5 separate regions of the Homo sapiens genome follow, and regions 2, 3, 4 and 5 are each reported to be linked to region 1. The links are microRNA targets in miRTarBase. Many come from high-throughput screens and were not tested one by one. Region 1 holds a microRNA gene; each other region holds the end of a gene's coding sequence. Distances are between the middles of the regions.
What was found. Region 1 holds the annotated microRNA hsa-miR-4329 (CCUGAGACCCUAGUUCCAC, at 3,296-3,314, shown strand). A microRNA usually pairs through its seed, bases 2 to 8, with sites in the 3' UTR of a target mRNA and lowers its output. Matches are read on the target gene's strand: a 7mer-m8 pairs with bases 2 to 8, a 7mer-A1 pairs with bases 2 to 7 and ends in A, and an 8mer does both.

Region 2: miRTarBase lists GPR173 as a target of hsa-miR-4329. Seed matches in the 3' UTR shown: 7mer-A1 at 3,388-3,394 and 7mer-m8 at 1,418-1,424.
Region 3: miRTarBase lists BCL2L12 as a target of hsa-miR-4329. Seed matches in the 3' UTR shown: 7mer-A1 at 2,600-2,606.
Region 4: miRTarBase lists EHD1 as a target of hsa-miR-4329. Seed matches in the 3' UTR shown: 7mer-m8 at 5,409-5,415.
Region 5: miRTarBase lists RAB40A as a target of hsa-miR-4329. The part of its 3' UTR that is shown has no 7-base or 8-base seed match.

What each region holds. Positions count from the first base shown.
Region 1 is chrX:112,777,606-112,784,041 of GRCh38, reverse strand. It overlaps MIR4329 (microRNA 4329), which reads left to right and starts at 3,254; the gene lies at 3,254-3,324. It overlaps AMOT (angiomotin), which reads left to right. Exons shown (of 14, transcript NM_001113490.2): 11 at 1,380-1,502; 12 at 2,924-3,156; 13 at 4,362-5,045; 14 at 5,378-6,436. The coding sequence ends at 5,475. RefSeq lists an enhancer at 4,149-4,649.
Region 2 is chrX:53,075,001-53,081,436 of GRCh38, reverse strand. It overlaps GPR173 (G protein-coupled receptor 173), which reads right to left. Exons shown (of 2, transcript NM_018969.6): 2 at 822-4,912. The coding sequence starts at 4,815. The coding sequence ends at 3,694. Among named protein-coding and RNA genes, the nearest start is that of TSPYL2, 4.1 kb to the left of the region's middle. RefSeq lists an enhancer at 3,788-3,847.
Region 3 is chr19:49,671,156-49,677,591 of GRCh38, forward strand. BCL2L12 (BCL2 like 12) reads left to right here. Exons shown (of 7, transcript NM_138639.2): 7 at 2,543-2,761. The coding sequence ends at 2,593. It overlaps PRMT1 (protein arginine methyltransferase 1), which reads left to right and starts at 6,116. Exons shown (of 11, transcript NM_001536.6): 1 at 6,116-6,161. The coding sequence starts at 6,126. RefSeq lists enhancers at 949-1,507, 1,001-1,190, 5,601-5,750, 5,755-6,436 and a silencer at 6,331-6,436.
Region 4 is chr11:64,851,915-64,858,350 of GRCh38, reverse strand. EHD1 (EH domain containing 1) reads left to right here. Exons shown (of 5, transcript NM_006795.4): 4 at 2,865-3,029; 5 at 3,494-6,436. The coding sequence ends at 4,018. Among named protein-coding and RNA genes, the nearest start is that of CDC42BPG, 10 kb to the right of the region's middle. RefSeq lists enhancers at 3,274-3,333, 2,575-3,774, 3,022-4,020, 4,021-5,019, 6,337-6,436 and a silencer at 4,617-4,676.
Region 5 is chrX:103,497,131-103,500,130 of GRCh38, reverse strand. It overlaps RAB40A (RAB40A, member RAS oncogene family), which reads left to right. Exons shown (of 3, transcript NM_080879.3): 3 at 1-1,001. The coding sequence ends at 208. All of the region lies in intron 5 of LL0XNC01-250H12.3 (a long non-coding RNA gene), which reads right to left. Among named protein-coding and RNA genes, the nearest start is that of RAB40A, 21 kb to the left of the region's middle.

The DNA of each region.
Region 1 (6,436 bases):
ATAAGGTACACGTATATTTTGGGGAACAGTAATTTTATAGAGGCTCACCAAAATCCCCAATCTTAATAGCAACTTTCTGCCTCTTTTTCTTGCCGCTTCATCCCCATCTGCACTAGACATAATCTTGAAGCTAAGAGAACATAGTTAGCTCCCAACAGAAAACATGCCTGGAGTTCTCTTGCAGATCCCCATTCTCTTAGGAAGTATAATGAAGCAGTGCCAGTTCATTGTTTTCTCGGTCTATTGTCTGATTTCCTTGAAGACCAATATAATTGCATCAGTATTCTCCCTAATCCTAATAACCTCCCTCACCCGCCCACCACACACACACACACACACACACACACACATGTTTTTCCTTATTAATTGGTCTTTGAGTTAATGGCCTGAGACACTTTCAAATGGAACATGATGGTCCTTTATGCAGTTAGAACTCTGGCAAGAGAACAGTCACTTTGTTGGGGTAGACCCATTGATTTGGTGCTAGAATGTTTCAGATGTAGATTAGATAGGAATCGAGTGGGACTGACTCAAAGGCACTATTTATTAGCTCACATGCCCTACCTAATCTTAGCTGATGTGTCTGTTGTTTGCTTCTAGTACTCAGGTGTATTTACCAATGTTCATCTGTAGCCATAAGTTACTTAGTATACCCTCTGACTTTCTTGAAAGTCTGACCTTTCCCCCTCTATGACTTCTAGGAGAATAAAATGGAAATATATACATATTCCTTTTTTTTTTTTTTTTGAGACAGAGTCTCCCTCTGTTGCCTAGGCTGGAGTGTAGTGGCTCGATCTCACCTCACAACAACCTTCACCTCCCGGGTTCAAGTGATTCTCCTGCCTCAACCTCCCAGATAGCGGGGATTACAGGCGTGCACCACCATGCCTGGCTAATTTTTGTATTTTTAGTAGAGACAGGGTTTCTCCATGTTGGCCAGGCTGGTCTCAAACTCCTGACCTCAGATGATCCACCTGCCTCAGCCTTCCAAAGCGTTAGGATTACAGGCATGAGCCACCATGCCTGGCCCAATATATACATATTCCTGTTGCTTGGCCATGATCTAAAAACTTGAAGGGGCTATCTGCCAGAAGGTTTTGGGATGATATCTGTTCAGTTCTGAAGGCAAGTCTGTGCATATCTCATCCCTCACTGACTTTTGCAGCCACTTCTATACTAATAACGTTGCCTTCTACCCTGAACGCTGAACTGTCCTATTTTGGAGGCTCTTACGGGTTAGTTCCCCAGAAACCATCTGTTCCAAATGTGCTTGATTTCAGCTTAGGACTTTCCAGAAAAGCCTTCCTTGACTTAGAAGAAAGATAACATTCATTGATCTTGCTATGCTCCCATCTCATCACTTCCATTTTCCTCCCCAGGGACACAACAGTCATCAGTCACTCTCCTAACACCAGCTATGACACAGCTCTAGAAGCTCGCATCCAGAAAGAGGAGGAAGAAATCTTGATGGCCAATAAGCGTTGCCTTGACATGGAGGGCAGGTAAAATGTTGTTCTGGACCCTGAGGAATCTGAGACATTGATATAGAGACCACATAGGATCTTTATTCACAGCTAGGAAATCTGATCATGCAGCCTCCCCGCTCCACCATCACCCCTGCCAGCCTGTCACTTAAAGGTGTGAGATGCAATGACCTTTACCTTGATAATCTCCACTAAACATGGAATTCCAGGTAGGGTTTCTGTCCCTTTGGCCTTCCTAATTGCTTTTCCTCTTCCCTCTGCCTGAGCTGAATTGTTGGCATTTGCACTCTGGAGTATTCTTTCTAGCACTGCACCACAACCCTGTGATACAGCAGATTGCTTAATAAAAGAGTAAAAGAACATCTGCTCGGCCGGGCACAATGGCTCACACCTGTAATCCCAGCACTTTGGAAGGCCAAGGCGGGCGGATCACCTGAGGTCAGGAGTTCAAGACCAGCCTGGCCAATATGGTGAAACCCTGTCTCTACTAAAAATACAAAAATTAGCCAGGTGTGGTGGCGGGCACCTGTAGTCCCAGCTACTCAGGAGGCCGAGGCAGGAGAATTGCTTGAGCTTGGGAGGCAGAGGTTGCAATGAGTCAAGATCATGCCATTGCACTCCAGCCTGAGCGACAGAGCTAGAGTCCGTCTCAACAACAACAACAAAAAGAACATCTACTCAAAGTGGAGGTAGGATACCTGATTCCTTTTATAAACACATGATCATTTACTTACTACCTGCAGGTTGTCGCTCATTCATAGATCTCATCTTCTCACTGAGTAAATTGTTTCCATTGACTGAGATTCTTCACTACAGCACCTAGTACATCAGTTCATTCTCTCATATTCAGCCTTTTTTTTCACTGGTACTTTATTGTGACTTACTAAGATTTAAGCAACAGCTCCTGGATGCTCTGCTGTATCCATTTGGGTGTGCAGAAAAAAGAAAAAACATGTTTTAAAAACTGTAGCACACCATCCCTTGTTTTCCAACTCAGAACTAACTAGATCAGCCTTTAGTCGAAAAGATAATGGGAGCTCCACGTAGTCATGTAGTCAATTAGACCAAAATGTGGAGGTAGCAAGAAGGTTTTTTTTTTTTTTTTTTTTTTTTTGAGATGGAGTCAGTCTTGCTCTGTCACCCAGGCTGGAGTGCAGTGGCACTATCTTGGCTCACTGCAACCTCCGCCTCCCAAGTTAAAGTGATTCTCCTGCCTCGGCCTCCCGAGTAGCTGGGACTATAGGCGCCTGCCACCACACCCAGCTAATTTTTGTGTTTTTAGTAGAGACAGGGTTTCACCATGTTGGCCAGGCTGGTCTCGAACTCCTGACTTTGCAATCCGCCCACCTCGGCCTCCCAAAATGCTGGGATTACAGGCGTAAGCCACCGCGCCCAGCCCACAACAAGGTCTTTATATGTTCTTTGCCTTTGGCTCCTAGGATTAAGACCCTCCATGCCCAGATTATTGAGAAGGATGCCATGATCAAAGTACTCCAGCAGCGTTCCCGGAAGGAGCCGAGCAAGACAGAGCAGCTGTCGTGCATGCGGCCAGCGAAGTCTCTGATGTCCATTTCCAATGCTGGATCAGGCTTGCTCTCCCACTCATCCACCCTGACTGGCTCCCCCATCATGGAAGAAAAGCGAGACGACAAGAGCTGGAAGGGGAGCCTAGGTAATGACAGTAAATAAGGAAGATTATAGTCACGTGTTCAAAGAGAGCCCTGAGATAAGCACCCATGCTTAAGGAAAAGGGATGATGGTCCAGGTTCTAGAGAGGAAGGTGTACCAGGGTTTTGGAGTTTTTTTTTCCTCCTGAGACCCTAGTTCCACATTCTGGAGCTCCTCCACACTTTGAAGTCTCCCGGTGAGAATACCGATTGAGGCCAAGGCTTAGAGGACAAGAATCTTGAGTTTCATTTGGGTGTCAAGGAAGATAACTCTAATTTCCTCTAAACTATTCTCAGATTTGGCCTTTGCCATGTGGCACCTTTATCTTTCTCCAAAGCCCATGTGGCCTTTGTGTCGTTCCAAATGTCAAAATTCCGGCATTTCTGTGTTCCTTCCTCCTCTATAATAGGAGAACCCAGAGTTTTAGTTACACTAAATCGTTTGGGTAGCAGGTTTTGTTCCCACAGTGTTGTGAGATGAGAACAGAATGTACTTTTTCATTCCGTTCCTGTCCATTCCCTCCCCTCTAATCAAAACCCCAGACATATTGTGGATACCACGAGGCACATTTTTAGAGCCCGAGGAAGGAAGCTTATATATATTTTTATTTTAACCCTTTTTGTTGCTGTTAATTCCTTTCTTGGTCCTCTGATACTTGTAATATCTTTTGGTTAGAATAAGCATTTTGGGGACTATGGTCATGGTGAGAACCTCAGATCACACAATTATTACCACACTCAATCTGTGTCAACAGACTTCTTCCCCAGATCCTTTCTTGCTCCCTGGTAACGTGTGGTAATGGTTTATAAGTGGAGCCGAGTAGGAGCATTCTGACAACTTGGTGGAACCCAATCACCATTGGAAAAATAAATCAAAACAGATACCCAGGTCACTTACAGGCTTAATATGTTGTGCCAGGTGATGGATGAGGACCAGAAGGGATCCTCGAAGTCTGTAGGAAACTTTTAGCCATGGTTGGAGGAGCCTCACACACTGATTTCTGGGTTCCCTGGAGGCAAAAATAAATAACTTAGACTATTCTAAATTATTTAATATTTAAAAATAATAATATTTTAAATATTTAAATAATATTTACTTATTTAAAAATAAATAAATTTCTTCTGAAATTTGAATGGGAGAACAGGTAATTAGATGTCTGGATTTGAATCACCTATTGTTTTCTAACATCTGTTCCTCTTTCATTTGTAGGCATTCTCCTGGGTGGAGACTACCGTGCTGAATATGTCCCTTCCACACCCTCGCCTGTGCCACCCTCGACTCCCCTGCTCTCGGCTCACTCCAAGACAGGCAGCCGAGACTGCAGTACCCAAACTGAACGTGGGACGGAATCGAACAAAACTGCAGCTGTTGCTCCCATCTCTGTTCCTGCTCCAGTTGCTGCTGCCGCCACTGCTGCCGCCATCACTGCCACTGCTGCCACCATCACCACCACCATGGTAGCTGCTGCTCCAGTTGCTGTTGCTGCTGCTGCTGCTCCAGCTGCTGCTGCTGCCCCGTCTCCAGCCACTGCCGCTGCTACTGCTGCTGCTGTTTCTCCAGCTGCTGCTGGTCAGATTCCAGCTGCTGCCTCTGTTGCCTCAGCTGCTGCCGTTGCTCCTTCTGCTGCTGCTGCTGCTGCTGTTCAGGTTGCTCCAGCTGCTCCGGCTCCAGTTCCAGCTCCGGCTCTGGTTCCGGTTCCAGCTCCAGCAGCGGCTCAGGCTTCTGCTCCTGCTCAGACTCAGGCACCAACTTCAGCTCCGGCTGTGGCTCCAACTCCAGCTCCAACTCCAACTCCAGCTGTGGCTCAGGCTGAGGTTCCTGCAAGTCCAGCTACCGGTCCTGGACCACATCGTTTGTCTATACCAAGTTTGACCTGCAATCCAGACAAAACAGGTAATTATTCCCTTTAGCAGGTAGGTTTTGGTTTAGTTCTGCTCTCAAATACAGATTTATTTCTTGTTGTCTGATGTCTGGGCAGAGTTATCATTTGGACTGAGTTTTTCACGTTCTAAAGGAGAGAGAAGAGAGTCTGTAAATGACTTCTCATCCACCAAGATGGGAACAGGCATGAGTAGAGGCCATTATCTTAGCAGAAGTAAATGAGGGAGGTGGCAGGCAAGTCTCACTTTGCCATTGGCTTCATGAGGGCTCTGATGGTGTCTGGTTCTAGAAATATGGGTTTTTTCTTCATCCCTAAGTGTTTTCTAACCCTTATTTCCATTTAGATGGGCCTGTGTTCCACTCCAATACTCTGGAAAGAAAAACTCCCATTCAGATCCTGGGACAAGAGCCTGATGCAGAGATGGTGGAATATCTCATCTAAACGGCCAAATCAAGAGCTGCAGATTATCAGCAAAAATGCTTTTAATCATTTTCCCCCTTTTATTGGTTCTTGTTTTGAGGGTGAGGACAAGGGTTGTGGGGAGGGGATGTTTTTTAACAGGACTTTTTATTGGAACAATGTACTACTTGAGTAATACCATGTGAACACCAGTCTATTTTGGTATGCTTAGGGAGTACCTCTAAAGACAGATTAATCAGAATGTGCTCTAAAGCTTATTGTTTGAATTTATACGAATACTGGGACTGTTAACAGGTGGCTATACATCGACGTTTTCAATGTGCTTAAATTTGTTTAAATTTTCCATATTCTAGATCATTTTTTATTGAAGAGCACAGTATGTGTGGAAGACAGTGTATAACACGTAGTTTGGAAGTGGGAAGCTAGAGAGAATTGAGTGTGTGCTGTTTTGTATAGTTACTATCCTGTGCAGCAGCTGGAGAAAGCACTCACCTCAGGCTTACAAAAGGGAATAGTTTCAGGAGCTATGTAAGCTGGAAAAAAGGTAGGGAGTTTTGGGGTGCAGAAGGGTACTGGAGCTAATTTTTTCTTCCAGTTTCCCAGCTACCCTGCCCCAGGGAATTGTGTTTGTCTTCATTTCAGTGGTGCTTTGGAAATGGATTCTTTTGGTTCCCTCCTGGAGGTTCATACATTCATATATATGCTCTGGAGTAATTTATGCATTTGGATAATTAATATATTGCTTTCAGATGCTGGGAGAGTACATTAACTGAGTGATGCGCAACTTCCTCTCTCTTAGGGAATTAGACCATCAGAGGCCTTGATGGAGAGTTGCATGGGGTGCTATATGCAGACTTCCATGGTTTGTGTGTAGCCATGAACACAGCTTGCTTGCATTTAGTAAGACCAATCAGCTTAGTGTTTATTTCTTCTACAGCACAGATTCACTGGCTGGGTCTCCAGTCTCAAATTGCCAATCATT
Region 2 (6,436 bases), 60 Mb from region 1:
TGCCCCTTCCCTCACCCTCCCGCCCTCCGCTTCTGCCCTTCCCCTATCCCCCAACTTCTGCCCCTTCCCTCACACAACCCCTGCCCCCCGCCCCCCCGCTTCTGCCTCTTTTCCTACCTTCCACTTCTGCCCCTTCCCCCACCCCCCACGTTTGCCCCCTGGGTGAACTCTGCTGTAGCTCCTCGGGGGCTCGGGCTGCCCTACCGCCTGCGCCTGCAATTTAGGCACCCAGGGTGTTTGGTTTGGGGGCCAGGTTTTGACGTGGCGTTTTCCATCTCCGCAAAATGGCTCTACAAATAATAATCACACACACAAAAAAGTAACTTCCTCTGCGTCATAAAAATGATTGTGATTCAGCTCATCTGCTAGAATTTTCTAGCACTTTCTGTCTCTTCATTTCTCCCCCTTTCCATCCTTTCCTCTCCCTTTCCCCAGTGTATGCTGTATTTTAAGATTTTTCTTTTTAAACCAGAGATGGATGGTCTTTTGTGAGGCATGGTGGTGGAGGGCTGGCTTTGGTGCTGGGATTCACATCATGGGTGTGCCCCTCATTTTGTAACCTTAACCAAATCACTGCCCCTCTCTGAGCTTCAGTTTTCTCTCCCCTAAATTAGGCATCCCTCAAGAGAGGTGTAGGTAACTGCCCATTGCAGCCTTGTCGCGGAGCAGAGAGGAGACCTAGGGATCCATCATCAGGGGAGTGGATAAGAAAAATGTGATATATGTTTTAGATGGACCACTAGAATGAATTAGATCTATATACGGCAACATGGCTGGATCTCTCAAAGACAGAATGTTGAGTGAAAAAAGAAACAACAAGATTTATAGTACAATACTGTTTATGTAAATTAAAACACACAGCAATACCATACATTTTTCACAGATACACATATATGTAAATAAACACATGAACGGTGGATTGGAAGGACGTACGTTAAATACACGAGAGTGGGTGCCTGTGTAGGGGGCGGGGAGGATGGGATCAGGAATGGGTGATGAAGGGGACAAAACTGAAGAAAAAAAAATAAAAGGGCCTCACATGGACCAATGATGATATAGTGTGCCAAGAACTGAGGAGTATGGTCAACTCAATTCTGTGCACCTGAGAGAATAACCAGATAGTAAATTAACTGTCTAGGGAGCAGGCTGGCTGGGTAGACTCCTGGGCTTGGGTTTTTTTTCCCCATGACATCCCTCCCTCTAAATTTGGTCAAAGCTGACCAAAGTCCCAGCTGCATACAGTGGCCCCTAGGAAGGGCTCCCATCCCAGACTGAGCAGTCCCTCCAGAAGCCATTACTTTGTGGGGGGCATTTCCTAACCTCATCAGTTTCCCTCACATTTGATCCTCAATTCCCAGTCCCCATTCTCCATGGTGGTCCAATTTTAGGAACACCTTGTTTGAGTTTGGGAAGGAGACTGAGACGGGGTTGAGATGGGGCTACAGGCTTTGTGAGGAGATGAGGTTTTCAAGTTCCCTGGCGGCCCCAGCCCTCCCGTGCTCAGGGCCTGGGCCAAGGGAGGCCCATCTTGTGAGATGGGAGTCTACCCTCTTGCTACCGACCTATGTAGTTTCCAAGATCCATCTCTTGACCACTCGACTTCCTACCACGGGCACATACTCTAGTTTGTCTCCTCTCAACTGTGGTGTGTGTGTGTGTGTGTGTATGCATGCACGTGCTGTATCTGTCCCCATATACAGGCATTTTACGTGTGTGCACCGGGCAAGTTTTCTTCAGGAGTGCCTCCCCACACAAAGTCACACAGACACACACTATCACTCAATCATGTCTCTCCACATGTGGTCAGACAGGGCACATGCACGCACGCACGCACACACACACACACAGTCAGAAAGAGAAAACATCCAGTATAGCATTGTTCATTTCAGTTTTTCCATTTACAAAATCCAATGGTGAATCCAGGCAGTTAGAAAAAAGAAATGGAGGAAAACCCTCCTAAATGTACCCTATCTACCCCCCACCCCCTTGGTCTTCCCACCCCACCCCCTCGGAAAGGCACCCCCATCACTATCGCTGAGAGAACAGGCTCCCCTACTCCCAGCCTCTCAGCCACTCTGGCCTGCCTTTCCAGGGCCACTCTGCAGCCAGGCTCATTAATGTCTCTCCTGCCTAGAGTGCCCTCCCCATTCTGTATGGGTCAGGCTTCCCCAGTTCTGGGGCTCTCTTGGGCTAGGGAGGGAGTTTAGGACAGGGACTTCTATAAAGAAGGGAAAGGGGGATGGATAAATACAGATTCCGGCCCCACAGGAAGTGAGAGGGGGACAGAGAGCCTGGGTAAGACCAGGGCAAGGAGTGCCAGCTTGGCTCACCAATCCACAGAACAGGCCTCAAAGTAAGCCCAGAGTGGACTCCACCCCTGGGAGGAGGCTTGGATCTCCCTCCTGGAGAATCTGACTGCAGTGTGCTCCACTTTGGGTGTAGGTAAGGGTGGGGGAAGGATGGGGAAGGAGGGTTGTTGGGAAAGAAGGATGCTTGGGGCTCAGGGCCCAGTCAGCCAAGGGCTACTAAGGAGGGGCTTGAGGCCCCTGAGGCTTGAGGGGGACAAAAAGAGGTCAGATAGGAATGGACTCAAGTCCACAGTGCCTTGGAGTTTGTACCGCTATCGGTTACCAAGGCCCCAAACAAATTTTCATCTTCAGAAGAGTAGGGTGAACCCGAGAGACAATTCTGGGGTTGAAATCAGCTCTGACCCAAGTCTCTGTGGTCCAGCTACTCTGGGGAGTTCAGCTCCCTCCTTACACTTTCCTGGTGGGCTGCTCCTGCCTGTATGGCACCCACATCAGTCCTAGTGGGGCTGGAGTGGATTTCCATCCTCAGGAAGAAGAGTTGGGGGCTGGGGATCCTGAAGGCAGCGTGAGAGAATGTGACCAAGTGTGGGTCTCTTCAGTTCGAGGAGTTCAGCTCACATCTTACTCTTCACCTAACCTGGGCCCATCCTTGGGGCCCTTCTCCCTACTCCCTTGACTTCTCCAACAGATGCACAAGAACCATTTGGGAGGTCTGGACATGGTGGGGAGGGAGAAGAGACTGGGCTTGGGGCAAGGGTTGGCCTAAAACAACATTGCACATGACATAGTAATTAAACATCCCTGCTCCCTGGGAACCCAGCACCCCCTTTGGTCCCTCTTGTCAGCAGCCTTGGACCACTTTCTCCCTAAACATCCAGGCCTTGCTAAAGGACTTGGAAGGGGAGGGTGCATGGGAGCAGAGGGGGCAAAAGAGCTCTGGAAGTCTATTTTACAGGACAAATTCCCCCTTCTGGACAGTGTCAGAAGGAGAGACATTAAAGTAAGAAAGCCTGTCTCCTCAGCTGTTAGTAGAAAAACCTGCATTCTCAGTGTTCTTTTCTTTTTCTGAATTGTCACTTCTGAGAGAGAGAGAGAGAGAGAGAGAGAGACAGAGAGAGAGAGAGAGAGAATGAGATTGTAGAAGTGGAGAAGGAGGCAGCGGAGACAGGCCCCACAAAACTAAATATGCCTCTTTCCCAGTCCCTCGCCCAGTCCTCCATCCTTGGGAGGTGTTGGCAAAGGTGCCTAGATTACAGGTGGTTCGAGGGGCTGGGGCTGGAGCTCAGAAAGGAGGACTCCTGTATGGGCCCCTACCCCTCCCTTGCTGTTGGCCCCATCACGGTGGCCATGACCTTCTCTCTGCCTGTCTGCCTACCAGCCTGCTTCACATGACACAGTAGGGTTCTCTGGGAGCCGGGGCACCTCCTGTGCCCCAGCAGGGGGCGTGAGTCCTCAGGCACTTCTTGAGGTCCTTGTTGAGCAGGAAGCAGACAATTGGGTTGACGGCAGCCTGGGCGAAGCTCATCCAAACAGCAGTGGCCAGGTAGCGGTGGGGCACAGCACAGGCTTTCACAAACACTCGCCAGTAGCAGGCCACGATGTAGGGTGACCAGAGGAGCAGAAAGAGCAGTGTGATCGCGTAGAACATGCGGCCCAGCTGCTTTTCACCCTTGACCTCGTCCATGCCCAGTAGCCGCCGGCTGGCTGCATGCCCATTCTGCCGGATACCCAGCAGGGTTGGTGGCATGGGCCCACGGCCAAAGCCGGCGATCCAGTTGGCAGCAGCCTGGCCGGTGGCCCCGGGACCATGGAATGTCCAGTTCTGGCTGATGGCTGGCACCATCTGCACTGGCTTCATCTTGCGGTGACGATACTCGAAGAGGAGCAGCTTGCCGTAGACAGCATGGGTAGCTGCCATGAGCACAGCCAACATAAGCATGAAGCCCAGCGTGTCATTGGCCTTGAAGTAGCGATGCTCAAAGATGCACTGGTCCTCCTCCCGAATAAACTTGTAGGTGCCCACGTCAAAGACAGGTGGGAAGGCCATGGCCACAGACAGGGTCCAGGCCATGCAGATGACAGCCGCGCATGTCCAGAGTGTCATGCGCTTGGCGTAGAAGCGGTGGTGGGCGATGGCCATGTAGCGGGTGACGCTGATGCAGAACAGCATGAAGGCCGCATGGAAGCAAAAGAGCACGGCCATAAAGGCCACAATCTTGCAGCTGAGTGCACTGAAGGTCCATGAAGAGCCGTGGCGCACAGAAGCCAGCACAAAGGGGAAGCAGACGGCAGAGCGTATGCCATCGGCCAGGCACAGGTCCAGCAGGAAGTAGTAAGGAGCCTTGTGCAGGGCACGCTCCTTGAGCACCAGCAGGGACAAGATGGCGTTACCCGCCAGGCTCACGCACATAATCAGTCCCAGCAGTACCAGCTTCACATAAGCTGATGCGGACGGTGGGGACAGAGCGCCGCTCACCTCCTCAGGCTCTCCGGTAGTGTTGGCCATACTGAGGGTCAGGGGCTACTGCCAACCCTAGGGGGTCAGCCAGTCCGGTACTCGATGGGCCCGGGGGGGCTCCATGAGTTGTCCTGCTACATTGCACCTGCAAATGGGAATGAGCGGGGGAGACACAGACACAGAGAGACAGAGAGATGAGGGCAAGAGAGAGACAGAGAGATGAGGGCAAGAGAGAGACAGGCAGAAAAACACAACAGGCGTGCAGAGACAAAGTGGGAAAGAGAGAGAGAGAGAGATAGAACAAAGAGATAGAAAAGTGGCCACCGATATAAATGGATTGAGATTGACACAGAAATGGAGGGGATGAGAAAGAGCGAGGAGAGAGAAAGAGGGGAGAGAGAGAGAGACAGACAGGAGACCATGAGAAACAGATGGAAAGGAAAGATGAGGAAGAAACAGAAAGGGTAGGGTTAGTGTGTCTACGAGCCCTCCCCAATTATGCCCTGGCTGGTGCCAGGCCCTGCCCCTGGGCCACTCCTGCTCCTACCCGCTCCTTGTCAGGTGAGGATGCTGCATTTCTTTGGATGTCTTTGGTTACCTGTTTCCTCCACTGGTGGATCTGTGGGGCAGGGATGTTGGTGCAGCTCTTCTCCCCTTTTGCAAAGCTCTAAGGTTGTGTTCAGACTTTTTTTTACTGCCACCCACAGTAAAAAAATACATTTTACATCACAACCCGCTACACATACATGCACGCACACACACAGCTCAACCAAAAGTTTCACAAAACAGTACTGAACCTGTATGCAATGTACCCCATTCATTTTTATTCTCTTTCATGTGTTCTTAAAATGCTGGTACCACTCACTTAATAGATTTCTTTATTCATGATGAGGAATGTGTTTAGTGTGCTTGAGGAACAGCAGGAAGACGAGTGAGGCAGGAACGGTGAGAGCAAGGGAGACAGTGGTGGAAGGTGAAGTCGCAGAGATGCCTTGGGGCCAGATTGTGTAGGGTTGTGGGCCACGATGAGGACTTTGGTTTTTATTTTAGGTGAGGAGGCAAGTATGTGTGAATATAAACATGTAGGGATGCTTGTGCATATTCATTCATACACTGAAAAAATATTTATCAAGCATCTGTGTGCCAGGCACTGTTCTAGGTATTGGGGATACAGCTGTGAACTACACAGATAAAGATCCCGGCCCTTGTGGAACCGACATTCTAGATAACAAAGAAGAGACACGGGTGAAGTATAGTATGTCAGATGATGACAAGTTCCTAAGAATAAACATAAAGGAGGGAAGGAAGATAGGAAGTGCTAGGGGTGGGGAAGATGCTGCAGTTTTAGATGAGGTGGACAGGGGAGGCTTCACGGAGGAAGTGTCATCTGAGCACAGACCTAAGGGAGGTGAGAGAGTGAGTCATGCGGATATCTCGGGGAAGAGAAGTCCAGGCAGGGGGAACGGCCAGAGCAAAGGCCCTGAGGTGGGACTCTACATGGCATATTTGAGGAAGAGCAAGGAAGCCACTGTGGGTGGAACACAGTGAGTCAGGGGAATGTGGTGGCAGGTGAGGTCAGAAAGGTGGTGAGGTCAGATCAGGGAGGCCGTGGCGAGAACTTTTTCCTCTGAATGAGATGGGAGTCACGGGAGGATTCTGAGCAGAGGCC
Region 3 (6,436 bases), not on the chromosome of region 1:
TGTCTCAACAAAATAATATAATAAAAACCTGGTGCGGTGGCTCACACCTGTAATCCCAGCACTTTGGGAGACTGAGGTGGGTGGATCACTTGAGGTCAGGAGTTTGAGACCAGCCTGACCATGGTGACATTCAGTCTCTACTAAAAATACAAAATTAGCCCGGCATGCCTGTAATCCCAGCTAGGGAGGCTGAGGCAAGAGAATTGCTTGAACCTGGGAGGCAGAGGTTGTAGTGAGCCGAGATTGCACCACTGCACTCCAGCCTGGGCAACAAGAGCGGGGCTCTGTCTCAAAAAATAAATAAATAAAAATTTTTAAAATTAATAATAATTAGCAAAGCATGGTAGCTCACACGTTTACTCCCAGCTACTCAGGAGGCAGAGGAGCCGGGAGGATCACTTGAGCCCAGGAGTTCAAGGCTGTGGTGAGCTATGATTGCGCCACTGTACTCCAGTGTGGGTGACAGAGTGGGACCCTGTCTCAAAAAATAAAATAGTGAGAGTAGTAGTGCTACCTCAAAGGGTCGCTCTGAGGGTTAAAATGGGGTCAATGTGGTAAGCCCTCTGTGCACTGCCTGGCATGCAGGCATTTTGTTGGTGAGGTTATATGGCTACCTGCTGCCTTTCCAACAGTGCCTGCCAGGATGCCCTCCCGGGGAACCCCCTGCCTCCGTCCTGCTCCTTCTGGTGGGCTCTGGTTTCACCCCCAACGAGGCCTTCCCAGGTCCCCATTGACAATCACAGCCACCTGCACACCCTCCCACCGCCCTCCTTCCCCCTTCCTGCTTTACTTTTCCTTCCATAGCACTTTGGGCCTTCCAACAGATGGTGGAATTGACTTGTTTTACTTGTCTTCTGGTTTATTTTTCTTTGTTGGTGTCTCCCACCTCTAACACATCAGCTTCAGGAGACCCAGAAGTCTTCCCCTCTCCTTTTCTTACTTTATCTCCAGTGCCGGTTTCAGAGTTGGATTGGGCTCCAGCGTGCTGGCCCTGTGGCTTGGCGACTGTCGCAGTCTCCCTGAGCGGCACTCTCCCCACTGGTCCAGTGAGCACCGTCTCATTTACCTGCCTTGGGGGGTCGCTGTGGGTATTCACTGAGAGAGGGACACAAGCCAGGCTCTGGATGGAACCGGTTTCCCTGGCAGGAGCTGGTCAAGTGTGTTTGAGGAGCAGGGAGGAGGAGGCCAGTAGGGCTACAGTAGGGTGAGCGGGCGACAGATGAGAGGAGGAGAGGCGCCGGGCCAGCCAGGACCCTGTGGTCACGGTGAGTGACAACTCGGACTTTGACTCTGGGTAAGCCAAGGTCTCTGAGCAGCGGAGGGACAGGCGCTGATTTAGGCGCTAATGGGCGCCCTCTGGCGGCTGCCTGGGGACAGACTGCTGGGGGCGAGGGCAGAAGTAGGGGCACAGGGAGGAGGTGAGTGGATCTCACCCAAGTCGGGGGCGGTGGAGAATGCTGGATTTAACTTAGCGGTGAAGCTGACAGATTTGGCTAATGGGCCAGATGTGGGGACAGACTAAAGGATGCTGGCCCGAGCAGCTGCAGGGCGACATCTTAAGTTCCCCGAGATGGGGAAGGTGTGGGGATGGGGGCGATGGGGGTGGGGAGCAGGACTGGAGGTGGTCCGGTCTACAGTAAGATCAGAACTCATAGCACATGTTGAGGGGAATGGATATAAGTGTTGGGCTCAGCAAAGAAGCTCGTTTATTTTATTTTATTTTAATTTTTCAGATGGAGTCTCACTCTATTGCCCAGACTGGAGTGCAGTGGCACGACCTTGGCTCACTGCAACCTCCACCTCCTGGGTTCAAGCGATTCCCTGCCTCAGCCTCCTGAGTAGCTGGGGTTACAGGCGCACACCACCATGTCCGGCTAATTTTGTAGTTTTAGCAGAGACGGGGTTTTGCCCTGTTGGCCAGGCTGGTCTCGAACTCTTGGCCTCAAGTGATCCACCCACCTCGGCCTCCCAAAGTGCTGGAATTACAGGCTGAGCTACCACGCCTGGACAATTTCTTAAAAAATTTTTTTAAAGTAGGATTGATAGCAGATGAGTTTTCTCGGTGGGCCAGGTCCTCTGCTAGGGATTTCAATGGAATGATCCCATTTAAACCCACTACAACCTCATGGGGCTCTTATTGTCCTCGTCTTGTGGGGGCAGAGAGGAAAAGTCCCCAGCATGCAGAGTGTTGGAATCTGGATTTGTACACAAAGCCACGACTCTGAATTGTTCAAATCCCAAGACTCTCTTCCCCATCTCTGACTCTGTCCCCCAACTCTTCACTCTCTCTGGATCTCTGTCTAATCCCACTCCAGTGTCCTGACCCTCCTCGAGCTCAACCTTTCCTCCTCCTGCTAGGACCCTGCCCCCTCATCCCTGTGCCCTTCTGTCTGGGTCTCTGTCCCCTTGTCTGGGTGTCTGTCACCCTCCGCTCTCTGGTTCCTCGCCTTCCCGTCTCTAATCTCACAGGGCTGATGTGGACGCTGCTGTATGGGGGGAACACCTGCCCTGCTCACAGGGCTCTGCCACTTTTCCCTTCCAGGAGGGCATCCTGGCTGTTTCACCCGTGGACTTGAACTTGCCATTGGACTGAGCTCTTTCTCAGAAGCTGCTACAAGATGACACCTCATGTCCCTGCCCTCTTCGTGTGCTTTTCCAAGTCTTCCTATTCCACTCAGGGCTGTGGGGTGGTGGTTGCCCTACCTGTTTTTGCCAAAAATAAATTGTTTAAAACTTTTCTTATTAAAAACGTTACAAAGTATTCAATTGTCTGTTCTTACACTTGGGAACTAAAGTTTTAAGGAGAGGAGATTTGGTTCAGAGATTTCTGTGGCTTACGCAAATTGAGGAAAGAACCAGTTCATTCATTCTAGAAATATTTATTTGCAGCACCTACAAGAGCCTGTCTCCTGGACATGTAACATATTTGAGAGAATACCTGTAAATATTCCAGCAACTTGCATTTTTTTTTCCTATTGCACGATCTGGTTATTCTAGCTAATGCTGTATGATGGTCATGGAGTCTTTCCAGTGAATTCCACAGAAAGGTACAGTCTAACTTCACCTGTGTCTAGGACACCACCCTCTTCTTGTTTTTCTCCTCCCATTGCTCCTTTCAAGTCTCTCTTGCTGGTTTCTCATCTACCTACAGACCAGTGGTTTGTCTCACACACACCCCCCACTCTCCCTTTTTTTTTGGAGATAGGGTCTTGCTCTGTTGCCTATACTTGCACTGTTATATAGATACAGTGGCACTATCATGGCTCACTGCAGCCTCAACCTCCTGGGCTCAAGTGATCCTCCCACTTCAGCCTCTCTAGTAGCTGGAACTAAAGGCATGCGACACGACGCCTAGCTAATTTTTAAAAAAGAATTTTTATGGGAGGCCAAGGCAGGTGGATCACTTGAGGTCAGGAGTTCAAGACCAGCCAGGCCAACATGGTGAAACCCCATCTCTACTAAAAATACAAAAATTAGCCGGGCATGGTGGTGGGTGCCTGTAATCCCAGCTACTTGGGTGGCTGAGGCACGAGACTCGCTTGAACCCGGGAGGCAAGAGGTTGCAGTGAGTTGAGATCACGCCACTGCACTCCAGCCTGGGCAACAGAGCGAGACTCCGTCTCAAAAAAAAAAAAATTGTAGAAATGGGGTCTCCCTTATGTTGCCCAGGCTGGTCTCCACCTCCTGGGCTCAAGTGATCCTCCTACCTTGGCATCCCAAAGTCCTGGGATCACAGGCATGAGTCACTGTGCCTGGGCGGTTTGTCTCCTTTATAGGGCCATATCCCCCTTCACAGAGTAATGTTTGTAAATTAATAAGTGAAATGTACAGGATTACAAACCGAACCAATTACAGTTGATCCTCAGTATTTGTAGATTATTTGCAAATTTGCATCCTTGCTACAATGTATTCATACCCCAAAAATTAAGGCAGTGCTTTTGTGGTGTTTTGGAGGGCAATGCTTATGCACAGAGCTGCAACAAGCTAAAGACCTGATGTGCATATTTGCAGCTGGGCTCCTCTTGCTTCAGCTCAAACACTGGAAACAAATGTCCTTTTCTTGGTTTGTTTAGTGCCATGCTTTTCAATTTTTTTTTTTTTTTTTAAAGTTAGAGTCTCGGTCTGTCGCTCGAGCTGGAGTGCAATGGCTTCATCCTGGCTCACTGCAACCTCCACCTCCTGAGCTCAAGCGATTCTCCTGCCTCAGCCTCCCAAGTAGCTGGGATTACAGGCGTGTGCCACCAGTCCTGGCTAATTTTTTTATTTTTATTTTTATTTATTTTATTATTTTTTGAGATGGAGTCTCGCTGTGTCGCCTAGGCTGGAGTGCAGTGGCACCATCTCAGCTCACTGCAACCTCTGCCTCCCGGGTTCACGTGATTCTCCTGCCTCAGCCTCTGGAGCAGCTGGGACTACAGGCGCCCACCACCACACCCGGCTAATTTTTGTTTTTTTAGTAGAGACGGGGGTTTCACCATATTGGCTAGGCTGGTCTCGAACTCCTGAGCTTGTGATCCGCCCACCTCAGCCTTCCAAAATGCTGGGATTACAGGCGTGAGTCACCGCGCCCGGCCAAATTTTTTTTTTTTTTTTTTTTGAGACAAGAGTCTCGCTCTGTCACCCAGGCTGGAGTGCAGTGGCGCGATCTCAGCTCACTGCAAGCTCCGCCTCCCGGGTTCACGCCATCCTCCTGCCTAAGCCTCCACGCCCGGCTAATTTTTTGTATTTTTAGTAGAGACGGGGGTTTCACCATGTTAGCCAGGATGGTCTCGACCTCCTGACCTTGTGATCCGCCCGCCTCGGTCTCCCAAAATGCTGGGATTACAGGCGTGAGCCACCGCGCCCGGCCGCCTGGCGTAATTTTTGTATTTTTAATAGAAATGGGGGTTTCACCATGTTGCCCAGACTGGTCTCGAACTCCTGATGTCAAGTGATCCGCCTGCCTCCGCCTCCTAAAGTGCTGGAATTACACCCGTGAGCCATCGCGCCCGAACCCTATTGTAAATTTTAAGTCTCAGGCGTTTGCCAGCGGCACGCCAGAGAGTATAGCCTGCGCGGAGGCCCAGAAACCAAAGAGCGAGCTCATTCCGGGATTGGAGAGAAGTGTGAGCAGAGGGAAGTAGAGGGATCGGGGAGAGGAGGGGCAGGACCCACGCATTCGGCCCTTTGCATTCAGCTTCATTCAACTAGGAACTTTTTCTGCAAATCAAGGAAAGCTTCCCGGAGGAAGTGGTGCCTAAGCTGTGCTCTGATTCACGTTTAGAAGCTGACCAGACAAAGAGAGGTGGGCGTTCCTGGCAGGGGGAGGGACTTGGCAAAAACCAAGTGGCTTGAGAGGGGTTGATGGTTTTAAAAAACTTGGAATGATTATGTCAAGGGCTAGGGATTTAATGTGTTGACGACGGACTCCTATTCCTCACTTGCTTCGGGACCCCAGCTATGCCCTTCCTCTCTCTGGGCCTCTCACCGATTCCGTTTTTCCCCCAGGTAATGAGCACAAGCTCCCTTTTTCCTCCAGACTCCCCCCGGGTTGGGAGGATCCACCGAGTGGACGAGGAGTGATAATTCCTTTGAGCCAATCGTTGGTGCCTGAAGCCCCGCCTTCTTCCCTACCCGTGGGCCAATTGCCGTGTTCTCCTTGAGGCCGGCCGCTTGGCGAGGGTGGGCCAAAGGCTGCGTGACGTCGCTTCCGGATAAACCAATGGCAGCGATTAGGAGGCGGGTCGTTTTGGTGATGGACAGGTGTTTCAAGACGCCCCTTTAGCGCGGGGCTCCCCGGGAAGCTTTGAGGCGGTGCTGGGTGTAAAGGGGAGGGCATTCCTGGTGGATTTTGCCCAATCACCAGTCGCGCTTCTTGCAATAGACGGGCAGTTTTCCCCATCCCGGGTCGACTTGAGGGGGCGGGATTCTGGACGCCAGAGTTGGCAAACCCCTGACCTATGATGGACGTATTCTCTAGCCAATTACTAGACGGTATTCTCAGACGGGCCGCCTCCATTGCCAATGAAATCTTCCAGCGGGGTCGCGGTAGGCGGGCCGTGGACCCTCTGGTATAAGGCGGTCCCGGGGGAGTGAGGAGAAAGGGGGGGTCTTGGCGGCCGGAGGAGGAGTAGGTGCGGGTGAAGATGGCGGCAGCCGAGGCCGCGAACTGCATCATGGAGGTGAGCGCTTGGAGCGCCGCCGTGGGCGGGAGGCGGCTTTGGGTCGGTGTTTCACGCCTCTGTGGTGGGGAAAGGGCTCTAAGTTGGCGATATGGGGTTGGAGGTCCCCCGCCGCACACGGGGGCGCCGCACGTTCCACATCCGGGGATATCGTTTGAGGTGACGGCTCCCTAGCTTCCAAGGGCCTTCGGCATCCGGCCTAGCGGAGGGTCTTATCCCCCCTCCCACGTGGAGGAGGGCTGGGGGCGCTTCCGGCCAGGCCCCCACGTGGCCGC
Region 4 (6,436 bases), not on the chromosome of region 1:
AATTAGCCGGGCGTGGTGGTGCGTGCCTGTAATCCCAGCTACTTGGGAGGCTGAGACAGGAGAATCACTTGAACCCAGGAGGGAGAGGTTGCAGTGAGCTGAGATCACACCACTGCACTCCATCCCAGGTGGCAGAGCAAGACTCTGTCTCAAAAAAAAAGAAAAGAAATAGGCTCTGGCCAGGCATGGTGGCTCACGCCTGTAATCCCAGCACTTTGGGAGGCCAAAGCAGGAGGATCCCTTAAGGCCAGGAGTTAGAGACCAGCCTGAGCAACCTAGTGAGACCCTGTCTCTATTTAATTTAAAAAAAAAAAAAAAAAAAAAGGCCCTTGCCGTAGCTCCTATCTCCAGGCCAGCCAGGCCGGAGCGTGGCTGGGGAACTGTCCTGCCTGCCAAGCCAGGCCCTTTGGTGATACGTCCCCAGTTCTTCAACAGAGCAGGGTGCTTGCCCCCACCTCATGGCATGCAGGGGGTACCAGGGTAGACATCATGTGGGCATGAAGGCTTCAGTGACAGATGTGCCTGTGGCCAGGGTCACAGTCCCCTGATCTCCAGAATATAACTGAGGACTGAGGATGGGCACTTCCTGGGGAGCCCATGTCCCTGCCTGCTCAGAGGCATGGAGACTGCAGGCGTTGAGCACAGTGGCCCTCGTACCCACTCTGTCTGGAGGCCAGTCAGAGGGCATGTGGGTGCTACCTGGTCTGAGCAGTGAGAACTGACCCTTCATCCTTTGCCACCACTGTCCTCCCATTGTGCCCCAAGTACCCTGGGCCCCACCTCACCCTGTAGATGAGGAATTCTCATTCTGGCCTGAACCTCCGTGAGCTGTGTGCACGGGCGTGGGTCAGATGCCGGCTCTGGAGGACAGAGGGCTGCGTGTTTTTCTTATTTTTAATTTTATTATTTTATTTTTTGATTTTTTTGGAGATGGAGTTTCACTCTGTTACCTAGGCTGGAGTGCAGTGGCGCAATCTCGGCTCACTGCAACCTCCGCTTCCCAGGCTCAAGCCATTCTCCTGCCTCAGCCTCCTGAGTAGCTGGGATTGCAGGCGCCCGTCACCACACCCAGCTAATTTTTATATTTTAGTAGAGACGGGGTTTCACCATGTTGATCAGGCTGGTCTCGAACTCCTGACTTTAGGTGATCCGCCTGCCTCGGCCTCCCAAAATGCTGGGATTACAGGCGTGAGCCACCGCGCCCGGCTGGCTGGATGTTTTTCTAGATCTCTCCCTTCTGGAGCCTCCCTGTGAGTGGAGCCAGCTTTGAGAGAGGAACCCATACAAAAACCCAGGTGACTGACCCTGGCCTCAAAGGACAAAGGACGTCCTGAGCTGAGGGGTGTGGGTGTGGCCCTAGCTGAGTTTCTCTCCTTGCAGGGCAGAGAGAGCTCCCTTGCTCAGCCACCTTTGAGGACAGACAGGACAAGGGGCAGGCATGAGCCCCTGCCTGGTCGTCTGTGAGACCATGTGTGACTGCCAGGCCCCAGGCACACTGAGTCACCGCGCCTGGAAAACCCTGTGGCCTCCAGTGTTGCCTCACACCTGCCACTTCCTTTTCCTGGAGTGAGTGGTGCTCTCTGTGATGACTCCCACCGGCCTGGGATCTGCCTGCCACAGTGTCCCTGGGGAGACTCTAGATCCAGACCCACATGGCACGGGGCTGCCTCCCTCAGGCAGTTCTCAGCCAGGCCCCCACCCAGGGCACAGGCTCAGGCTGAGCGGGGTGGTGGATGGGCTGGAGCCGGGGAGAAGGGCAGCAAGGCTGGCTGGCCGCAGCCCTCTGTGGCTGGACACGACTTGGCAAGGCCGAGGGATCTGAGGGCTGGGCTACTCTCGAGGGCTGCCAGGTTCCCAGCTTGCTGCAGGGAAATGAAGGGGGTGCCGCCCTGAACAGGCACATGCCTAAGCAAGGTATTGATGCTTGGATAAAGCTGGCAACCACCAGGAGAAGCCTTTTTGGGATTTTTCAAATCCTTCGTCATCCGAGCTGTGATGATGGAGTGGAGCGTGGCACGGGCCCATTGGAGTTCTGTGGGCTCCATCGGCACTCAGCAGGGATTTGGACGTGCAGGCTGGTGGGCCCTGCAGGAAGCCTGCTCCCTGCTCTGCTGCGTGGGAGGGGGCAGCTCGGGGGAAGGGGGCTTGCAGAGAAACAGAAGAACATGGGCTGTGGGGCACCTTCAGCAGCCCGGGGTTCCAATCCCAGCTCCTCCATGTGGGAGCCAAGCACCCCAGGCAGCCTTTCCCAGCCTTGCTTAGGGCCGGGTTGGGAGAATCCCACCCCGCAGGGCTGTGGTGAGGGTTGAACGGAGGGTGTGTGGTGAGGGTTGAGCGGAGGGTGTGTGATGCGTGGTGAGGGTTGAGCGGAGGGTGTGTGATGCGTGGTGAGGGTTGAGCGGAGGGTGTGTGATGCGTGGTGAGGGTTGAGCGGAGGGTGTGTGATGCGTGGTGAGGGTTGAGCGGAGGGTGTGTGATGCGTGGTGAGGGTTGAACAGAGGGTGTGTGATGTGCCCAGTGGTACACGACAAATTGCCTTCTTTGGGTTGACAGACTGGGTTTTACTCTTCCTGAATCATCACAATGATCCGTGCAAGGCCAAGGCTGTTGTCTTCTGTTTCAAGTGCGTTTTCCTGTCCTGTCCTCTGTCCTGTGGCAGTGGACAGCTGTGGCTCTTGCCAGATTGTGTCTGCTCCTAGGACTGTGGGAGCCGGTGGTGGTAGCGGCCTTGAGCTTGACCCATCCCTCCTGCTTCCCTGTTCCTGAGCGAGCACCTTGGAGTATCCTTGGAGTGTCCTTGGAGGCTCTGCTCTCGGGGGCAGCCTGGGCCAAGAGAGCGCCTGATGCTCACCCCGTCCTCACAGGTTCACGCCTACATCATCAGCTCCCTCAAGAAAGAGATGCCCAATGTCTTTGGTAAAGAGAGCAAAAAGAAAGAGCTGGTGAACAACCTCGGAGAGATCTACCAGAAGATTGAGCGCGAGCACCAGATCTCCCCTGGGGACTTCCCGAGCCTCCGCAAGATGCAGGTACGGCTGTCCCGAGGCCCCATGCAGGCTGGTGGCCATCAGGGCAGAAGGAAGGCCCAGGGCACTGGATTTGGAGGGAATCCCATCTCCATGGGGAAGGGCCTCCCTGAACGGAAGCAGCTGGGTTAATCACCAGCACCCCACCCAACTCAGAGTTGACCCAGGCGGTGACACTGCAGAGGGGAATGTGGTGACTCACCCTGCGTGGTGGGGGGAGGGCAGGGCCATGCCAGGCGCTCTGGTGCCCTGTCCATGAATCCTTGCCGCAGCCCTGCAAGGAAAGAGCTGGAGGTGCCTCCTGTGTACAGGTTAGAGAGCCAAGGGCCAGATGGTTTTGCCGAGTCGCCCCTGCTAGTGTGGGGGAGCAGCACTTTATGCTTGTGAAGCCCTGACTGGAACCACTTGGCCTGGAGTCTGGGAGGGGCCTCCCTTCCCAGCCCTTGTCCTTCCTCCCCCGCCCACAGGAACTCCTGCAGACCCAGGACTTCAGCAAGTTCCAGGCGCTGAAGCCCAAGCTGCTGGACACGGTGGATGACATGCTGGCCAACGACATCGCGCGGCTGATGGTGATGGTGCGGCAGGAGGAGTCCCTGATGCCTTCCCAGGTGGTCAAGGGCGGCGCCTTTGACGGCACCATGAACGGGCCGTTCGGGCACGGCTACGGCGAGGGGGCCGGCGAGGGCATCGACGACGTGGAGTGGGTGGTGGGCAAGGACAAGCCCACCTACGACGAGATCTTCTACACGCTGTCCCCTGTCAACGGCAAGATCACGGGCGCCAACGCCAAGAAGGAGATGGTGAAGTCCAAGCTCCCCAACACCGTGCTAGGGAAGATCTGGAAGCTGGCCGACGTGGACAAGGACGGGCTGCTGGACGACGAGGAGTTCGCGCTGGCCAACCACCTCATCAAGGTCAAGCTGGAGGGCCACGAGCTGCCCGCCGACCTGCCCCCGCACCTGGTGCCGCCCTCCAAGCGCAGACATGAGTGATGGCGCCCGGCCCCGCACCTGCCATTTGCACGCCCGGCCGGGAGGCAGAGACGGGGGGAGGGGAAGCCTCACCATTTCTCAAGGTCCATAAAGACTGAGCGGATGTTTCCTCGCCTCTCGAAAAGGAAAACCACCATCTTTCTTTTAAGGCTGTTCCTGGGCCTGGCGGGGGAGGCAGGGGTGAGAGGATGGAATTGTGTGCACAAGAACTGTGGCTATTTTAATATATAACGTTAGAGGCTGCGTTCTTTGTCGCCGCCTCCCCTGTGTGCCAGCCCTGTGTGCACGGCCTCTGCCCCCCGGCCTTTGCTGTGGCTGGAGCTGGACAGTGCAGCGACTGCGACCGTGGGGGAGCCAGGTCGCCCTTTTGGCAGCTGCTAGGCTGAGGCTGCATGGACAGGAACACCAGGCACCCTCCGTGTGCTTCTGAGCTGAGGTTGCTTCACGGGACCGTGGCTTCCTTCCTCACCTGGCTCTGCCTCCCCCGTGCTCTCGGGCGAAGTGGGTTCTTGTGCCTTCCCCTCCCGGGCCCAGGCTCCCCGTGCGCGGGCCCTGCCCTTTCCTCCCGCGCCCCACCGGCTCCGACGCGCAACCCCGCTCAGCAGTCACAGAAGCAGGGCCCAGCCACCTTGGTCTTTTTTTGGGAGTTCAGGGGAGTAGGAGAATGTCTTCCAGAAAAATACATAAGCTAGTTTCTGTTCTGTAAAGTGATATCTTTCATACTTGACCAAAGTTCCCAATAACTTCCCAACCACTGTTCAAAAGCTGTGATTTTTGTCTCCCCTTCCCACCCTCCAGCCAAGGAGCAGCCCTGCCCAGGGGGCATTAGGTGTGGGTACCCGGGGAGCACCCCGTTCCTGGACCCCAGTGTTGCATTTCCTGGCTGAGGAAGGGTGGTCATCCCAGCTCCTGCCCTACCCTCTCACTTAACTGGAGCTTTGGGACGCACCCTCCACAGTGGGAGGTGGTGGTGGGTGGCGGTGGCGGGGCCTCACGACAGCTTGGTGCTGGTAAGAGGAAGCCCGTGGTTCTGGCTAGGCTCTCATGTCCAGACAGCGGGGACCAGGGGAAAACCCAGCCCCTTCTGTAATCCCCCTTCATTTCCTACCTTCCTTCCTCCTCTGTTTAGCAAAGGAGGGCAGCTCACTTGGATGTCCTTACAACGCCCCTGGCCCCCAGGTTGAGCAATAAGAAACCAGAACCTTGCGGCCCAGTGGCCCGGGCCAGTTCAGGCCGCCTCCCCCTCCTCTGCCTGGGGCCATTGAGCCCAGCCTCCAGGGCCCGGGCGCGTTTGCAGGCCAGTGGCCACTGTCCGGGCTGTGATGGCACCAAGGCAGGTGGAGCACCAGGTACCACACAGCTGGGCTTCCCACCAGGCTTTCCCGCGGGGGTCTCAGGGAGCTTCTCCCCAGCGCTGCTCGGAGTCTGCAGGAACTGGCCTTGTTCTCCTTAGCCCGTCACTCCATACAGTATTAGGTGAGGATGGATGCGGGCGCTGTCCTTGCCGGGAAGTCACTGTTGAAGTTGCAGTGGCTTGTTCACACCTGTGGGAAGAGAAGTGAAGACTTTCTCCTTGCATTAAAAAGTCTGAACTGTGCGAAAGCTTCGGGTGCTTCCTTGTCTTTTCCAGGGGCAGCAGTCCTGGGCCATCCTCCCCTGGTGTCTGAGGGGGTGATGCCAGCAGGGACAGAGTGGCAAGGCAGCCGGGGCAAGGTGACCAACCCTGCCCAGTCCTGCTCTGCTGGGCAGTAGCTGCCCCCTCCTACTAAGAGGGCCAGGCCTGTAGGGAAAAGGGTTTCTGGGGTGATGCCCCCTTCCCTGAGCAAGGTGGGAGCTGAGCAGTTCACTTGGGGTGGGGAGGGGGGAAACAGTTGGGAGGATGTTGATAGCTGAGGCCTAGGCTGGCACCCCTCAGCCACAGACGGATGAGTGGGCACCTGCAGGCCCTCGGCACTGGGTGGCATCAAGTAAACAAGGGTTTCTGGGCTTTGGAGCCAGACTGGCTCCTTGCTAGCCCCAAGGACGGTTTAAGTACAGGGAAGCCGGGCCTCTGAAGACAAAGCAGATAGCCTGTGACAAACATGCAACTAAGGGTGGGGCCAGTCAGGCCCAGGTGATGTCACAGATGGGGGACTGTTTATACCAGCAGAGGGAAGGGTGACTGATTAGTGACCCTTCATAAAAGGGTGCAGACTTGAGGTGCCATGGGTAGAGGCTGCTCCAGCCCCTCTGGCAGAAGGCAGGACAGAAACAAGTTCCTGAGGGTTTCAGGGACCCAGTTGTGTGCTCCGAGCCTAGCTGGTGTGGTGGTGTCTGGTCCTATGACCAGCACTTGAGGTGCCAGTGGATGCTTCAGTTGCTGCAGGGCTGGCCGGCCCTCCCTGCGTCACTCAGCTGCCACCTGTGGGCATTCACCCT
Region 5 (3,000 bases), 9.3 Mb from region 1:
GGACAAGCTCCCGCTCCCCAGTACCTTAAGAAGCCACCTCAAGTCCTTCTCCATGGCTAAGGGCCTGAATGCCAGGATGATGCGAGGCCTCTCCTACTCCCTCACCACCAGCTCCACTCACAAGAGCAGCCTCTGCAAAGTGGAGATCGTCTGCCCACCCCAGAGCCCACCCAAAAACTGCACCAGAAACAGCTGCAAAATTTCTTAAGGAAGGCACCAAAAGGAAACAAGCTGGAATCGCTCCAGGAAAAACTCTGGTTACACCTGGAAGATGGAAGTCGCATTGTAGATTCAAGAAATTAGTTTTCAGTTTCTCACGGGAACCATGCTGCTTGGGAATGTGTGTGATGCCTTCTGTCAATAAAAACACATTACACAGTTTGACTTTGAATTTCTATTTGGATGTGCATGAAGCTCTTGTTTTAAACGTGTGTTTATAAAGGGGAAATTAGTACTTTGCTCAACTCTTGATAACGTGAAATTTTGAATGTTACTTATATCATAATCACGCTGCAACTTTTTCCTTAAAATAACCGCCTTTGTTAGAATGGTGATATGGCAATGATGAGTATAAATTCAAGGAAATTTGAGAAGCAATGATAGTGAGATAATTCAGTCATCGATAGTACAAGAGGGGCCTTTTTGTAAACCTCCTTTTTAATGTCAAAGCACCAATTTATAAAACACTGCAGATGCATATAGAGATTGTATATAACAGATCTGTCCAGCTTGTGCATGAAATGGATTTGATAAAGTTTTTGCTATGTTATTTACTACATTTGGGGATTAATACGTGATTTATATGTATGTTTTTCTGTAAATCTACTTTTTTTGTACGAGATGTTCTACAAGATATGAAGCTAAGGGAGGAAAACACCAAAGATATCTCTAGTTATGTTGAACATAGCCAATATGGTTTCAATGGATCAATAAGAAAAAACCATTTCAGTAAGGAATGAAATACGTACTTATTTGAGAAAATGTTTCTTAACAGTAAAAAAGTATATATTTTTCTCTTTGGTAAAACGAAAAGAGAGGAAAAATATGTATAGTGTAACCCCGCAAGATGAGGCTTTGCAGAAAAACAATGCAATAGAACATGGCGGGGCAGGCCCATTATAAGGCCTTAGGTGAGTCATTTCCCCTGTGCTGGCCAGTTTTGGTTAACACCTCTCAGATCAATATAGAGGTTAATGAGATCACATCTGGGAAAGCACTTCTGAGACCTTAGATGGGAAAGAAGGAGAAGTGGTTTCCACGTAGTTACTTTCCAATTTACACTGTTGATTATTATAATAATTGATATTGGATGAACTGAGTAAATATAAGTCCTTGTACTCTTTTGTAATTGAATGACCATTTATTTGTGCATTGTCATAGGGTGATTGTAACAAAGTCCCGCAGAAGGGCAGTATCTCTGGCCTCACGGAGCTGTGGGGACTCACCCTTCCTGAACGCTGGTACTTTTCTATCTCATGAATTTCCCACAACATTCCTGGGAGGTAGAGGATATAATCTCTACACCATCCTGTAGCTTAAGAAACAGGGATGTTTGCAGGTTAAGCAACCTGGCTGGGGAGCATCCTGCCACTAAGTGGAAAAGCAGAGACTAGCATCCTATATGCCCCCAGGCAGACTGTGATGCTGAGCTGCACATCACAACATAACCAAGCAAATCTTGCTTTCCTGCTGACCTGGGTCACTACTGAAATCTGTATCTTCAGCTCTGAAGCCAGGCTGCCAGTTCTGTCTCTCTTATGAAAGACAGAGAACCTTGTCAGACCTAAATTTCCTACTCTGTAGACAAGGGAGTGTGTCTGGGCCATTGCTTTAGAAACGAGTCCGCAGACAGTTCCTGTATCAGGAAGAATATGCACTCTCAGAGGGACAGGGGCCATGCTGAGGGTGAATACTTGAAGGAGCAGGCCCCAAACACATGCAGATCGGGGATGCATAGAGTCTTTAATAGAAATTACCAAATCAACCTTGAAAGAGGTTGTACTAAATGACATCCCCACCACCAATATGAAACAGGGTAGGCTTCCCCGCATGCCCACCTTACTGGAATCCTGAATGGTTTCTTTTTATACTTTGATGATATGACAGGTGGAAATTCTTTCATTGTCATTATATTTAATTTGATGTTCAGATAACTTAAAAAATTCCCTAGTATACAAAATGCTCTGATAATCATCATTGCATTATATTTTTATTGCAAACTGGTCCATTTTCATATGTAGCCTAAAAACAATGAGCAACAGGCACATTAGCCTGCAAGTTCTCCTAGAGCTACTGGTGGCATTATGGTTCCAGGGTGTGTTTGTGGCCTCTGGGGAATACTGATGGCAGTGTGTTTGTCTAGAAGATTAAGAACATCTCTCTGTGATATTAGTTGAATTCAATATTAGAGAAGAGCTGGAGTCTTTTTAAGTGACACAAGAGCTGGACCACAACATGCTTCTGAGCAGGCTGTAATCCTGTCCCTGTGATGGACAGCAAGCCTTTCTGTGACCTCACCTGCTCAGGTCAGGGTGGATCCCTCCAGAACGTAAGGTATGGCAATTGGCCTAAATCTGCTTCTGAACACTGAAGCTGAGTGCTCCCATCTTCCTGCCGTCAGTTGCAGAGACTGGAGAAGCTGCATCTTCTCAGACACCAAAACCACGGGTTCAGTCACCTGTGTGAGGAGCTCAGTGCTGGAAGATAAAATACCAGCACCTGTTTGACACATCGTGCATCCATCCATCCATCTGTCCATCCATCCATCCATCCATCCATCCATCTATCCATCCCCATAGTTAACAGGCATTAAAGTCAAATGACACCATCCCTCTGGTTAAGTTTTAGACTTCCCCAGAATAGAAACAAGGAAGTAAGGGGGTTGTGGTAAACTCAGTTTCTAGACCTAAGAAGAGATGGCTCCTTCTCCTTAATATTTCCACCCTGAGAGAGCCTCTTATCATTGATAATTTTAAAACATAATTTAAAACCCTAGACCTC